Homo sapiens: one gene and its partner. The protein of the gene in region 1 purifies or fractionates together with the protein of each later gene. This does not show direct contact. Each region holds a gene or a part of one and is shown on either strand. Other genes may lie near its edges.

The links.
Region 2: the proteins of DHX38 (region 1) and PPP4R3A purify together in Homo sapiens (co-immunoprecipitation; 3 studies listed by BioGRID and IntAct, with this or other methods). This does not show direct contact.

What each region holds. Positions count from the first base shown.
Region 1 is NC_000016.10:72,110,133-72,115,037, forward strand, and holds the end of DHX38 (pre-mRNA-splicing factor ATP-dependent RNA helicase PRP16), read left to right. Parts: intron 1-823; coding exon 824-945; intron 946-2,280; coding exon 2,281-2,365; 3' UTR 2,366-2,780; downstream 2,781-4,905. UniProt on the Homo sapiens protein: Probable ATP-binding RNA helicase. Involved in pre-mRNA splicing as component of the spliceosome.
Region 2 is NC_000014.9:91,458,062-91,466,441, forward strand, and holds part of PPP4R3A (serine/threonine-protein phosphatase 4 regulatory subunit 3A), read right to left. Parts: exon of another isoform or gene 8,372-8,380; intron 8,356-8,371; exon of another isoform or gene 8,200-8,355; intron 7,359-8,199; coding exon 7,189-7,358; intron 4,817-7,188; coding exon 4,674-4,816; intron 4,179-4,673; coding exon 3,988-4,178; intron 3,547-3,987; coding exon 3,320-3,546; intron 809-3,319; coding exon 698-808; 3' UTR 1-697. UniProt on the Homo sapiens protein: Regulatory subunit of serine/threonine-protein phosphatase 4. May regulate the activity of PPP4C at centrosomal microtubule organizing centers.

The sequences.
Region 1 (4,905 bases):
GCTCCACCCCACGCTTTTTTTCATGACATTGATTTATTGGAGCAGCCAGGTCATTTGTCCTGTCGAATAGTCCATATGATGTATTTGCCTCATTGCTTGCTCACAGCGGTGTTTAACCTGTGCCTGTGTTTCGTGCACTTGCTGTAAGCTGGCGATGAGTCCAACCGCTCAATTAGATCCCGGCTGAGCTGCGTGTGGCAGAGATGCCTGCATGTGGCACTGTGAACCTCCTCTTAGATGCCTTCAGGAGGCATGTGAGGTCTGGTGGCCCCACCTTTGCTGATGGGAGGATGGATGAGGGGCCCCAGTGGTGGCAGCCTGCCTCTTCCCTGATAGGTTTCCACTGCTCCTCCATCTTGAGGTTTTAGCGTCTGTTGATGGCCATTGCCTAGATCCATATTTAGGGTTGCAAAATGGTGCTGGGCTTTGGCTTACCCCTTTTCGTAGCATAATTCTCCCCATACCAGGCTCCCTTGCATCTTATGCCTGTCTCTTCCAGCCAGCAGGTAATCACATCTTCCCTGTTTTTCTGTACTTCCTAGCATAGTTGTGAACTTGATTTTTCAAAAAAGAAGGAAATGTAAGTACTTCCTGGACTGAGGGATGACTGAGTTAGGACTGATTGTCCAGTGTCTTGAGTCAGTGAAAAAAGCAGGCCTCAGCTGCAGAAGAGAAGGCGGCTTTGGTACTGGGGCAGGCAGCCATGTGGAGCACTGGCCTGGTGGATGCAGCACCTGGTTTGTGGCAGGGACTTGGGTGCCGACGAGGCCTCCTTCCTTAGTGGTCCCCAGTAGGCTCAGCCAGGTCTGTCCCTCTTCAATAGGAGAACCGTCGTCGGGCCAAAGAGGAAGCCTCTGCCATGGAGGAGGAGATGGCGCTGGCCGAGGAGCAGCTGCGAGCCCGGCGGCAGGAGCAGGAGAAGCGCAGCCCCCTGGGCAGTGTCAGGTGAGCTCCGGCCTTCGGGCTCTGGCTGGGGTGGCACCCATCCCAGGAGGCTGCCAGAGACCAGGCCCTGATGCAGGGTCAGGATTTATGGGAAGGTGCATGTGTGAAGGCAAACTGGTGACAGAAGTTGCTTGTGCATTTGGTGGTCACATGGATGTGTGGGAGGAGTTCCTGACAGCTTTAAAGGAGCGACAGTACACCTGCAGGGATTCAGGGCCTGAGGCAGCCTGGAGTAGCAGGATGGGTTTCACAGCTTTACTCATGAGCGAGGGGGTTGGAAACCCCAGTGCAGTGGTGAGAAGTGCGCCTTGGGCTTCTGCGTCTGTGCTGGTCCCTGGAGTTAGGCCAGACTTGACAGGTCGCAGGCACAGGCCTCCGTGAGAACGCCCTCACTTCAGATACCAGCTGCAGGTGTAGACACCATCCTTACTGGTGTCCCCATGGACCCCTGCAGGTTCAGTATTTGCTAGAATGACTTTCAGAACTCCGGAGAGTGCCGTACTTACCATTATAGCTTTATTATACCAAAAAGGTACAAATTAGAACCAGCCAAAAGGAGAGATGCATAGAGCAAGGTCTGGGAGGGTCTCAAATGCGAAGCCTCGTTTGTCCTCAGGACCACGTCCCCCCGTGGCACACTGATGCATGACAGTATGACAGGTTATTGCTAGCCAGGAAGCTCACCTGAACTTCAGTGTCCAGAGTTCTTATCATTGGGGTTCTGTTACTTAGGCATGAATGACTGAATCATTGTCATGTGGTAGAGCTCAGCCTCCAGTCCCCCCTCCTCCCCAGAGGTGAGGCTGATAGCACGTGGCTCAGAGCACCAGTGCTAACCCCGGGGCAGAGAGGCCAGCCTGCCTTGAGTCATGTTGTTAGATAAACTCAAGGGGTTCACCAAGAGTCACCTCATTAGCATAATCTCTCAAACGAGGGCTGAGGGGCCCCCATGAATAGCAGACACTCCAGTCACTTGGGAAATTCCAAGGGTTTAGAGTTGGCTCCTAGGCACTGGGGACAAAGGCAGGCTGCTACACAGTTGGAGTGGCGCACGTGAGGTGGAGGGAAGCTGCTTTTGTAGCTCCCCTAGGGACTGTGGGAGGAGTTGTTAAAATCCGATCTAAAGCATATCGGAATGAGTGAGCTTCCTTGATTACATCGCCAGTCGAACATGGGGACGGCAGAGGAGTGAGAATGTGCCGGGGAGGAGATCCCTCGGCCCAGAGCTCCCCACCATGGGTTAGGAACAGTAAGTCCTGGGGCTCTGCATCCTCCTGCCCTCCTGGCTGTGGGTGAGGGCACGGTGTTTCCTGATCTCTCCTGCTGTGTCTCCAGGTCTACGAAGATCTACACTCCAGGCCGGAAAGAGCAAGGGGAGCCCATGACCCCTCGCCGCACGCCAGCCCGCTTTGGTCTGTGAGCTGAGGCTGTCCCCAGAGAGGATGGCAGCAGGTATTGGGTCCTCAGCCTTCTGGCGGGAGCCCTGAGGCTGCGGACAAAGCCCTTTCATCTGAGGACTTTCATCTGTGCATATCACGGCCCCCCAGGGCAGTTCCTGCTGGACCAGACTCTCTGGCAGAGGAGGTGGAGTTCTTCCATGCAGGAGCACGGCATGGCGGGAGCGGGGCTGCAGAGTATCCGAGGTGCTGCCGGGGCAGCGGGAGGTGGCTGGACCCATCGCATCTAAAACTGGCCCAGGACACTTGGTGTATGCGTGACTTGGCTGTGGCTGTCTTTTTTAATCCTTGTGTAAAGCAGCAAAAAAGACCTAAAGGGAATTGTAATTTGGTTATAATTCAGGATTTGGAAATAAATTTATTATTTGTAAAACATGACTGCATGTCTGACTTTTTCCTTCACCCTCTTAAATCATGTAATAAAGGTGGGGGGTGCAGAAGCCTGCCCTGACTTCCTTTGCATGGGTCGTCCTGGAACTCTGCCCTTATTTCTGCACAAGGCAGACCAAGCTCTGAGGGTGCCCAGCTGCTCCTGAGGCTGGGGGGCACTGGCAGGTCTGCCTTGATGGCCAGGTCATGGGAGGGAAGTGCGCAGGAGTCCACCCCAGCCTTCCCTGGGGTGGTTTGGCTGCTTGAAAGAGGTCCATGTGATTGCTCTGGATGGCAGAGGGTAAGGGTTGTCCATTGACTGAAAAACAGTGTAAAATGTTGCTTATTGATTTTCACGTAAAAGGTGACCCTTACACCAGAATCACCAGTCTTTTCTCTTTTTAAGCAGTCTCTTAAGTCTGCTGAGGTGGCTTTTTGGGTGTTTGGCCCTTTCCACTAACCATGGTGTATATGTTGTGATTCCTCCAGGCTGGGCTTCTGCCAGGTGTGCTGGTTGGCAGGTTCTGTGTTGGGGTTGAGTCACAGACAGGATTGGGGCTCGGAAGCACCTTGATACCAGGCCAGTGCCGGCGTGAGCCCTGTGGTGCGTGGCCTGCTGTGCTGTTCTGATCCCTTTCTCCCTCTGTTCCTGGGATTTGCCTTTCCATGTTTTATAACTCAATAAATGTTAAAATGTAAGTCAATTTTGTGGGTGAGCTCAGAAGCCTAGCTTTGCCAGCCAGCACCAGCTACCACCTCTGCCTCCATTCTTCCCTCTAGCCCCCTTGGGGGAATGCAGGTGGAAATGGGCTTCTCAGGGCTCTGTAGTGAAGAGAGGGCTGCCAGCACTTTGCCTAGGAAGCATTCTAATCTTGGCCCTAGGTTGGAGGACTAGAAGTTGGCTGATGTGTGACCTATTTACAGAATCAGGCAATGGAGTAGGAAAAAGATTGAGGTTCTACTTAACAGTTATTATTAATAAGCTGTGACCTTGGTCACAAACTCACTAAGTCCCTTAGATAAAAAAATAAGGTCAGAGAGGCTATTAAAACAATGGGTCCAACTCAACCATCGTATTTACAAGCAAGGAACACCTGGTAAAGGATACTTGGTACATGTGGGTGCTACAAGAGGAATGGAGGGGTCCCCTGCCCACAGCAGCTCCCCCTGAATTTGCCACGGTACTGGAGCTTCTGCTCAAGGCTCTGTCTCTTCCTGTGTTTCCAGTGTTTTTTTAAATTACAGATCCTTTCCATTCCGATCTTCCTTAAAGTTCCTTCGAGCTTTAATATTCTGATTCTCACTGTCTTTTCTTCAGATGGCAACTGATTGTTTTTCTAGAGGTACAAAAGCATACCTATGACATGGTCTCTAGCACCATGGCCCCGTTGTGGACTCCTGAGTCTGGCTGACCCTTGTTATTGTCTGTATTTTTTTAGTGTAACCATCCTAATGGCTGGTATCTCATTGCAGTTTTGATTTGCATTTCCCTAGTATTTAGTGGTGTTGAGCATCTTTTCATGTGCTTATTATTGGTCATTTGTTTATCTTCTTTGGAGAAATGTCTCAAGTCCTCTTCCCCCCCGCTTTTTTTTTTTTGCATTAGTAACTTTTTAAAAATTTTTAAATTTCAACTTTTATTTTAGATACTGAGGGTACATGTGCAGGTTCATTATATGGGTATACTGTGTGATGTGGTAGGTTTGGGGTATGGATCCCATCACCGAGGTAGTAAGCATAGTACCCAACAGGTATGTTTTCAACCCATTTCCCTCTCTCTATTCCTCCCAACCAAGTAGTCCACAGTGTTTATTGTTCCTATATTTATGTCCCTGTGTGCTCAATGTTTAGCTCCCACTTATAAGTGAGAAGAAGTAGTATTTGATTTTCTGTTCCTGCAAGAATTAGCTTAGGATTATGGCCTCCAGCTGCATCCATGTTGTTGCAAGGGACATGATTTCATTCTTTTCTATAGCTGTGTAGTACCCCATGGTGTGTATGTACATTTCCTTTATCCAGTCCACCATTGCTGGGCACCTAGGTTGATTCCATGTCTTTGCTATTGTGAATAGTGCAGCGATGAACATGCGAGTGCATGTGTCTTTTTGGTAGAATGATTTATTTTCCTTTGGGT
Region 2 (8,380 bases), on another chromosome or scaffold:
AAGCATACACTCAGGGGAGGAAAAAAAAAATCAAAAACAAAATAAAACAAAAAAATTATGACACAAATGACCACATCTAGAATTCCACTCAATCTTTAATCAAGTAGGGAGAAGTCCCCACTTAAAAAAAAAAATATCTGCAGTTTGAAGGGCAAAGGGAACAGTTAAAAAAGAGGAAAACTTTATACTCGCCCCTCCCCCACAGAGGTTTTCCAAACCTGTTGTAGCTTGACTAAAATGTTCAGAATGTATGATTTTAAAGGCAGGTCTCTTTATACAAAGAAACTGCTGGCATTCTTGACTAGTGAAGAATTATGGCAGAAAGGCCCATTCTTCTGAGTCTCAAACATGGTCCAAGAAAGCATATTCTGATTGTAGCAACTGACCAGTCAATCCAGAGTTCCACTTACAAAACCCCTGCCCTGTTGGCTTTTTGTTTCCATTTCCTTCCCTGAGAAAAGGGCAATGTGTGGTCCAAGCTGGAGAGCTCAAAGGCTTAAGTCTTTCCCCTAAATATATGATATCCCCTCCTCCTGCTCCATTGAATTGGCACTTGATGAGCAGAAGTCAAGTGTAAGAGGCTGATCTGTGTCAGTCATTCACAAGAGACCACTGCGCTTTGTTGTGGATTTTGTATGGGGGAGGGGTGGAGAACCAGTTTTTTTCAACAGGTACTGATCCTAGGCCGTTGCCATTATTATGAATCAAATTTTGCTTTCTTTGACAATGGTAACGTATCTTCCTTATCTTCATCCTCATCATCATCTTCATCATCATCAGGATAATCTACCAGACCCACGAGGCCTCCCTGTTAAGAAATAAGGATTATTTAAAGAACAGAAAATAAAACATATAAAAACACTGGTGTTTTCTGGCTGGAGAAAGAAAATAGATCCTACCAACATAGTAACGGTGGTTATTTCTGGGTGGTGGGACTGTGTTAAACTTCAATTCATTATGTTTACATATTTTCTAAATTTCCTGTAATAAACATGCATACTTTTTTACAATAAGGGAAAACTTTGAGTTAATTAGAATTAAAGCAAAAATTTTTTTTTTCCAAGTCGGAGTCTCGCTATGTCACCCAGGCTGGAGTGCAGTGGTGCGATCTCGGCTCACTGCAACCTCCACCTCCCAGGTTCAAGCAATTCTCCCTGCCTCAGCCTGCCGAGTAGCTGTGATTACAGGCGCCCGCCACCACGCCTGGGTAATTTTTGTATTTTTACTAGAGACAGGGTTTTGTCATGTTGGCCAGCCTGGTCTTGAACTCCTGACCTCAGGCGATCCACCTACCTTGGACTCCCAAAGTGCTGGGATTACAGGCATGAGCCACTGCACCCAAACTAAAGCAAAAAAATTTAAGTAGTTTATAATCCTAGCAAATTACCCAGGAGTTAGAAAATGAATGAAAAATGTTTGTTTCAAGACTTAATAGCATCTTAAAATTTTTTTAAACATAAAGTCTAAAATAGTATAAAAATGAGGCTGAGCATGGTGGCCTGTGCCTGTAATTCCAGCACTTTGGGAGGCTGAGGCGGAGGGATCACATGAGGACAGGAGTTTGAGACCAGCCTGGCCTGTTAATTAACATAGTGAAACCCTGTCTCTAATAAAATTACAAAAATTAGCCAGGTGTGGTGGTGCACATCTGTAATCCCAGCTACTTGGGAGGCTGAGGCACAAGAATCGCTTTAATCTGGAAGGTGGAGATTGCAGTGAGCTAAGATCACGCCACTGCACTCCAGCCTGGGTGACAGACTGAGACTCTGTCAAAAAAAAAAAAAAGTACCAAAATGAAAACTGCAGCAGATAAAGAGACCACCAGAAATGAGGGTAGACAGGCTTTTTCTATTTATTAGAGGTTAGGAAAGCAGTTCTACCCTGACTCTTCCTCATCATTTCATCTGGGTTTCCTTTTAGCCCTGCTCCTTCACCAGAAACCACTGCCGCTTGCTTTATTTATTTTTTGAGATGGAGTCTCACTCTGTCGCCCAGGCTGGAGTGCAGTGGCGCCATCTCAGCTCCCTGCAAGCTCCACCTCCCGGGATCACACCATTCGCCTGCCTCAGCCTCCTGAGTAGTTGAGACTACAGGCGCCCGCCACCACACGCGGCTAATGTTTTTGTATTTTTAGTAGAGACGGGGTTTCACCGTATTAGCCAGGATGGTCTCGGATCTCCTGACCTCGTGACCCACCCCCCTGGACCTCCCAAAGCACTGGGATTACGGGCGTAAGCCACCGCGCCTGGCTGCTGCTTGCTTTATTTCGATGCTAAGGGAAAAATTCACACTGCTCTGCTCTCAAGCCTGCCTCTTCATTTCAGCGTGTCTCAGATTCACTTCTTAGCCGTCAGGAGTCTCCAGCTCACGCCAGAAAAAAAAAAGACTGAATGGGCATTACGTGTCTGATTTAGATCAGTGATTCCCAAATGCCAGTCTTTTAACTGCTAGTCTGCTAGCCCAATAATCAATATATTATGTCTCAAAAGAAAAGGGTGGTTGGCATAAGGAGCCCCCAAAACTGGTTTTATTCTGAGATTGCATGTTTTCTACATTTTTTCTTAAGATTTTGTTCCTTTTTTTTTTTTTTTTTTTGAGATGGAGTCTCGCTGTTGCAGTAGCGATCTCAGCTCACTGCAAGCTCCGCCTCCCAGGTTCATGCCATTCTCCTGCCTCAGCCTCCAGAGTAGCTGGGACTACAGGCGCCCGCCACCACGCCTGGCTAATTTTTGTATTTTTAGTAGAAACGGGGTTTCACCACGTTAGCCAGGACGGTCTCGATCTCCTGACCTCGTGTCCTGCCCGCCTCAGCCTCCCAAAGTGCTGGGATTACAGGCGTGAGCCACCGTGCCCAGCCCTTGTTCATTTCTTATATGAAATGTTAGTGATAGTAGATGTTTAATTTTCTTAACAAACCTTAACTGGCAAAGTAAAGTTAGAAGTACCCAGATATTTAGATTATCATTTCCCCACAAAGGCTTTATCTGGGTATTAGTTAGGAACATTTATTCAAGAATAACTGAAAACCTTGAACATTTCTGTAAATGTTTTGACATACAAATTTGAAGTTTCAGTTCTAAAATCCAAAATACCCAAGTGAGAATTCACACTATATGCAGACTTGCATTGGTCATAAAAAAAACTTTCAGAAATTTCTCAACCTTTATATAAGTTCAAGCGGTGGGGGGGACTCATCCTCTAGTTCAGGGATGTTAAATCAGTTCTAGGTGGCAGTAACCAAAGGGAATCTTAGTCAAAATTATTGTTGAGAAAGCTTCAATTGGGAAAAAAGGGGGCAAAATGGGAGTCAAGAATGTACCTTTGTAGTAATAGCTGCCGTCTGAGATGTATTTTTAGGTACGGATCCAGGAGAGCCTGGAGATCCTGGGGATCCAGGTGATCCCGGAGAACCAGGCAGATTTGTTGTAGATGACTGGCTGGTGAGGTTAGTCTTCGTTCCACTGGACAGGGAAAGCTTGAAACTTGGGCTCTGCCGTCCAGAAAGGTTTGTTTTCAGAAGCACTTCCTTTTCCTCACTTTCTTTTACTAAAAATGAGAATACTGTCAATAGTCGTCCCCCATACTTCTTTTTTAAATTTCCCCAAATGAGGTAACACTAAAACACATTTAACTAGCTTACTACGCTGGGTAGAAACATTGAAGTTCAATTTATAAAAGAAGCTTACCAAAATACTAACCACAATTCCATTCATTGGATCTTACCCCAGAGAAGAATTGAAACCTTCAGAATCATATTTAGTATCCCTACCCTTCCTGAAATAGTATATTCCTTATTCAACTCAAATTAAGAAAACTTAAGTTTATGCCTACACAACACTGCTATTCAGTCACATCCCATAAAGCAATAGAGTCTTTAAACCGTATGCCATCACACCTTCCAAGCAAATAATCATTTTGTCAAGAAATAAGAATAAATCTAGAGTAAGAAAGCCTTAATTTTCTCTTGCCCATTTTTTTCCAACATACATTTCTTCCTTTCCATGAATTTACTTATTGGATCCATAATATCATCATCATTTTTAGTTTTGTCAGATGGAGACACTACAGCTTCTCCATCTTCCATGTCATCTTCATCTGTGTTAAACCACATCTCTTCTTCATCTTCTAGTGTTCTGGCATCTCTTCGATATCTGTGATTCCTCAAAATGGAACGCATACTATGAGTAGGGAAGAAAGAGTAAATACAATCATATATGGACTTAATTGTACTGTTACAGATGACTTATTAAACTTGTTAACATAGGGAATTAACATGAAATTTACAAATATTAAAGTATCAATGTAAATCCAGGTATTTAGATTAATGTACAAAATTTTAAATAATAATTTGTAACCTTAGTAACTTGTAAATTCAAAGCAAGTAATATAATCCTCTGATTTTATTTGGAACACATGAAGCCTCACTTCCACTGTTTGGTCTTTTTTTTTTTTTTTCCCTTATCTAGCCTGATACATGCCTGAGGTATTATACTAATAACCAGCCTAATCTTCAGGGAAACATTTATGTTGACCCTTACAGGAAGCTACAATTTCTATTTGCTATCTGCTGATTTCCCTGTTCCTTGTCAAGCCAAATAATATCAAATAAACAATAAAGCCACTACCATACGACTTGATGCTGAACGAATAGGTTTAAATATATGGTAATTTACCTGTCAAGTTTGGGATTATCTTGCCTTTCTCTTTGTTGTTCAAATCTCAGTTTTAATCCTTTAAATGTCTGTACATAATCTACATCTTCCAGTGCTTTCCAGTAATTTTCAATTACATGAGCAGTTAATGATTTTATATCTTCCTACAGAAAAGAATAGTAATGAAAAAATGATAGGAAAATGTCATTTTAGCAAGATGAGGCTTAATTTAATCAATTCATACCCACCAAAAATAGCTTAATTTAATAAAACTACATAATCTTAGAGATAACCAAACAATAAAAAATGGGAATAACGTACACTGGCTACTATAGTAGTCCCCAATTTATCTATGGGTCTTTTTTTTTTGAGATGGAGTTTTGCTCTTACTGCCCAGGCTGGAGTGCAATGGCATGATCTCGGCTCACTGCAACCTCTGCCTCCTGGATTTAAGCGATTCTCCTGGCTCAGCCTCCAGAGTAGCTGGGATTACATGCATGCACCACCACGCCTGGCTAATTTTGTATTTTTAGTAGAGATGGGGTGTCTCCGTGTTGGTCAGGCTGGTCTCGAACTCCCGACCTCAGGTGATCTGCCTGCCTCGGCCTCCCAAAGTGCTGGGATTACAGGTGCGAGCCACTGCACCCAGCTATCTATGGGTCTTTACAAAGTAAATGCCCAGGTCTTGCCCTAGGTGATTCTGATTCTGATGTGCGGGCTGGGTATGTGTATTTTTTAGAGATGGGGTCTCGTTCTGGCACCTAGGTTGAGATATAGTGGTATGATTATAGCTCACTGCAGGCTTGAACTCCTGGGCTCAAGCAATCCTCCCACCTCAGCCTCCTGAGCAGCTAGGACTATCGGCATGCACCACCATACGGGGCTAAGTTTTAACAAAAAATTTTTGTAGAGATGGGGTCTTGATATGTTGCCCAAGCTAGTCTCTAACTCCTGGCCTAAAGCAATCCTCCCACTTTGGCCTGCCAAAGTGCTGGGATTACAGGCATAAGCCACTATCCCTGGCCATGGACATATATGTTTTATTAATTAATTTTTATTTTAGGTTCAGGGGGTCCATGTGCGTATTTGTTATACGGGTAAACTGCGTGTCACAGGGGTTTGGTGTATAGCTTATTTCATCACCCAGGTAGTAAGCACAGTACCCAATAGGTAGTTTTTCAATCCCCACCTTCTCCTACTCTCTACCCTCAAGTGGCTCTGGTATCTGTTGTTGTTCCCTTCTTTATTTCCATGTGTACTCAAAGTTTAGTTCCCACTTACAAGAGAGAACACACAACAGCCATGCGTATTTTAAAAGCATGTCACAGGCCGGGTGAAGAGGCTCATGCCTGTAATCCCAGCAGTTTGGGAGGCCAAGGTGGGCAGATCACCTGAGGTCAGGAGGTTGAGACCTGCCTGGCCAATAGTGAGACCCTATCTCTACTACAAATACAAAAATTAGTCGGGTATGGTGGCGCATGTCTGTAATCCCAGCTACTCTAGAGGCTGAGGCAGAAGAATCGCATGAACCTGGGAGGTGGAAGGCGCAGTGAGTCGAGATCATGCCACCGCACTTCAGCCTGGGTGACAGAGTGAGACTCTGTCCCCACCCCCCTCCCTCACCCCCCAAAAAAAGCATGTTACAGAAAAGTTCTGGAGATGAATAATGGTGATGGCTGCCAACAATGTGAATGTTTACTTTAAAATGGTTAAAATAGCAAGTTTAATGTTTTATATTATTTTATCCCAGCTTTTAAAAAAGCACGACATCCAGGTACTGTGGTATGCACCTCCAGTCTCAATTACTTGTGAGGCTAAGGTGGGAGGATCGTTTGAGCCCAGCTGGGCAACATAGCAAAACCCTGTCTCTAAGAAACAAACAAAACAAAAAGCCATGCCAGATAAATTTGCACAGCATCAATGAGAACCACTAGCTTATTACATTACTAGAGAATAAAGAGTATTATGAAATTGGTCTTTAGAAATGTGTAAGTTAAGAAAAACACATTCAAATGCTTATCTGTCAAGTGTAGTTTTGCTTTCTTAAAATGATTACTGTGACCATCCTACAAAGCAGCAGTCCCTAACCTTTTTGGTTTCATGAAAGACAATTTTTCCACCAACTGGGGTGGGAGTGGGGGAGCACAGTTTCAGGATGAAATTGTTCCACCTCACAGTTAACCAAAGGGTTCATGCTCCTAGGAGAATATAATGCTGCTGCTGATCTGATAGGAGGTAGAGCTCAGGCAGTAATAATGCCTGCTTGCCAGCAGCTTACCTCCTGCTGTGCAGCCTGGTTCCTAACAGGCTATGGACCGGTCCGCGGCCAAGGGGTTGAGGACCCCTGCTATAACAGATTTGTAGCTGCTGAGAGGTAAGATGTAGCTTGACTCAAATCTCTCACAGGCTTTTAGTACTTTTTTTTTTTTTTAAATCTCTCCAAATATTATCATCTCAAGCCAAAATACTAGGTAATGCATATTCAATTTTCTCAAACAATTAAAATGAAAATTCTAATTAAAAATACAGAACCTACCACTCTAATAAATTCAAACATCTCTATTATGGCAGAGTTCATCAGATTGTAGCGGGATCCATTGTTGAGAAATGCTTTCACTACTGGTTCAAACAAAAAACTTTTCATTATGTAGCGGTTGTAAAACTCATCTTTTAATCCAATAATCTTTCTTTTAAAACGAAGGGCACCTGAAACACAGAGGCATGGTTGTTTAAATCACATACCACTCTTCCATACTTTAGACTTACCAAACAAAAATAACCATCAAACCAAAAAAAACTGTTTAACACATATCAATAATTATTTATGATGTTTGCACTTCCGGAACTGTGAACCTAAAGATAAGGATTATGAAAATGTTATCAGAAAAATGTCTTCTAAAAGTAGTATATGTCATCATAGAACACAAGTCTTAGAAAGCCAGAAAAATCCTGAAAATAAACCAGTTACTAATGACCAAAATGTAATTTACATCTAAAATAAGAGCTAAGACAAATGAATGAACCTATCACACTACTTAAGATGAAAAAATTCAACATGACCTTTTATATCCACCTTAATAGAAAAAACCAGTGTTTTATTAGGGCAATCCACTGTATAATTTGATCTTCAATATTTTTGGACACTCTTATTATTTTGCATTGTAGTTCATGGAATTTTATTTATTTGTGGATGTGGCTGTAGAAAGGCCATCAACCCACAAAAATCTGCATGACCCAAAATTTGCCTTGCCATAGTTTAAAAATAAATTTAGAGGATGTTATTTAAAATGTGGTCCTCTATGCTTATTGTAGCGAGTATGCTTTTTAATTTTTTTCTAGTTTTCATTTTCATAATTAATTAGGCTTTAACTTACAGATTAAAAGGTATATTTACATCTTGAGGTATGGGGAGTTACTTAAGTCACCATTCATCAAGACACAAATATACTCAGACAGCTAGACTTCAACAAAGCCCTCTTTACCTAAATGGAATTATCAGTAAGTTAATGCCCCAGTTATTGTAAACAGTGCAAAAAAGCATACTCACTTCATGCAGTCACATCGTCTTCGGTTGGCAAGATTAAATATTGTGTTTGTATTTTGGTTTCTTTGGAGATCATGGAAGTGGCTCGTTAAATTGCCAATTTGCTATTAATCAAGTCCTTCATGAGCAGGTAGCCAGGCAACCATGCTGACACGGTTTCTGGGTGGGAAGGCAGAGGAGTAAA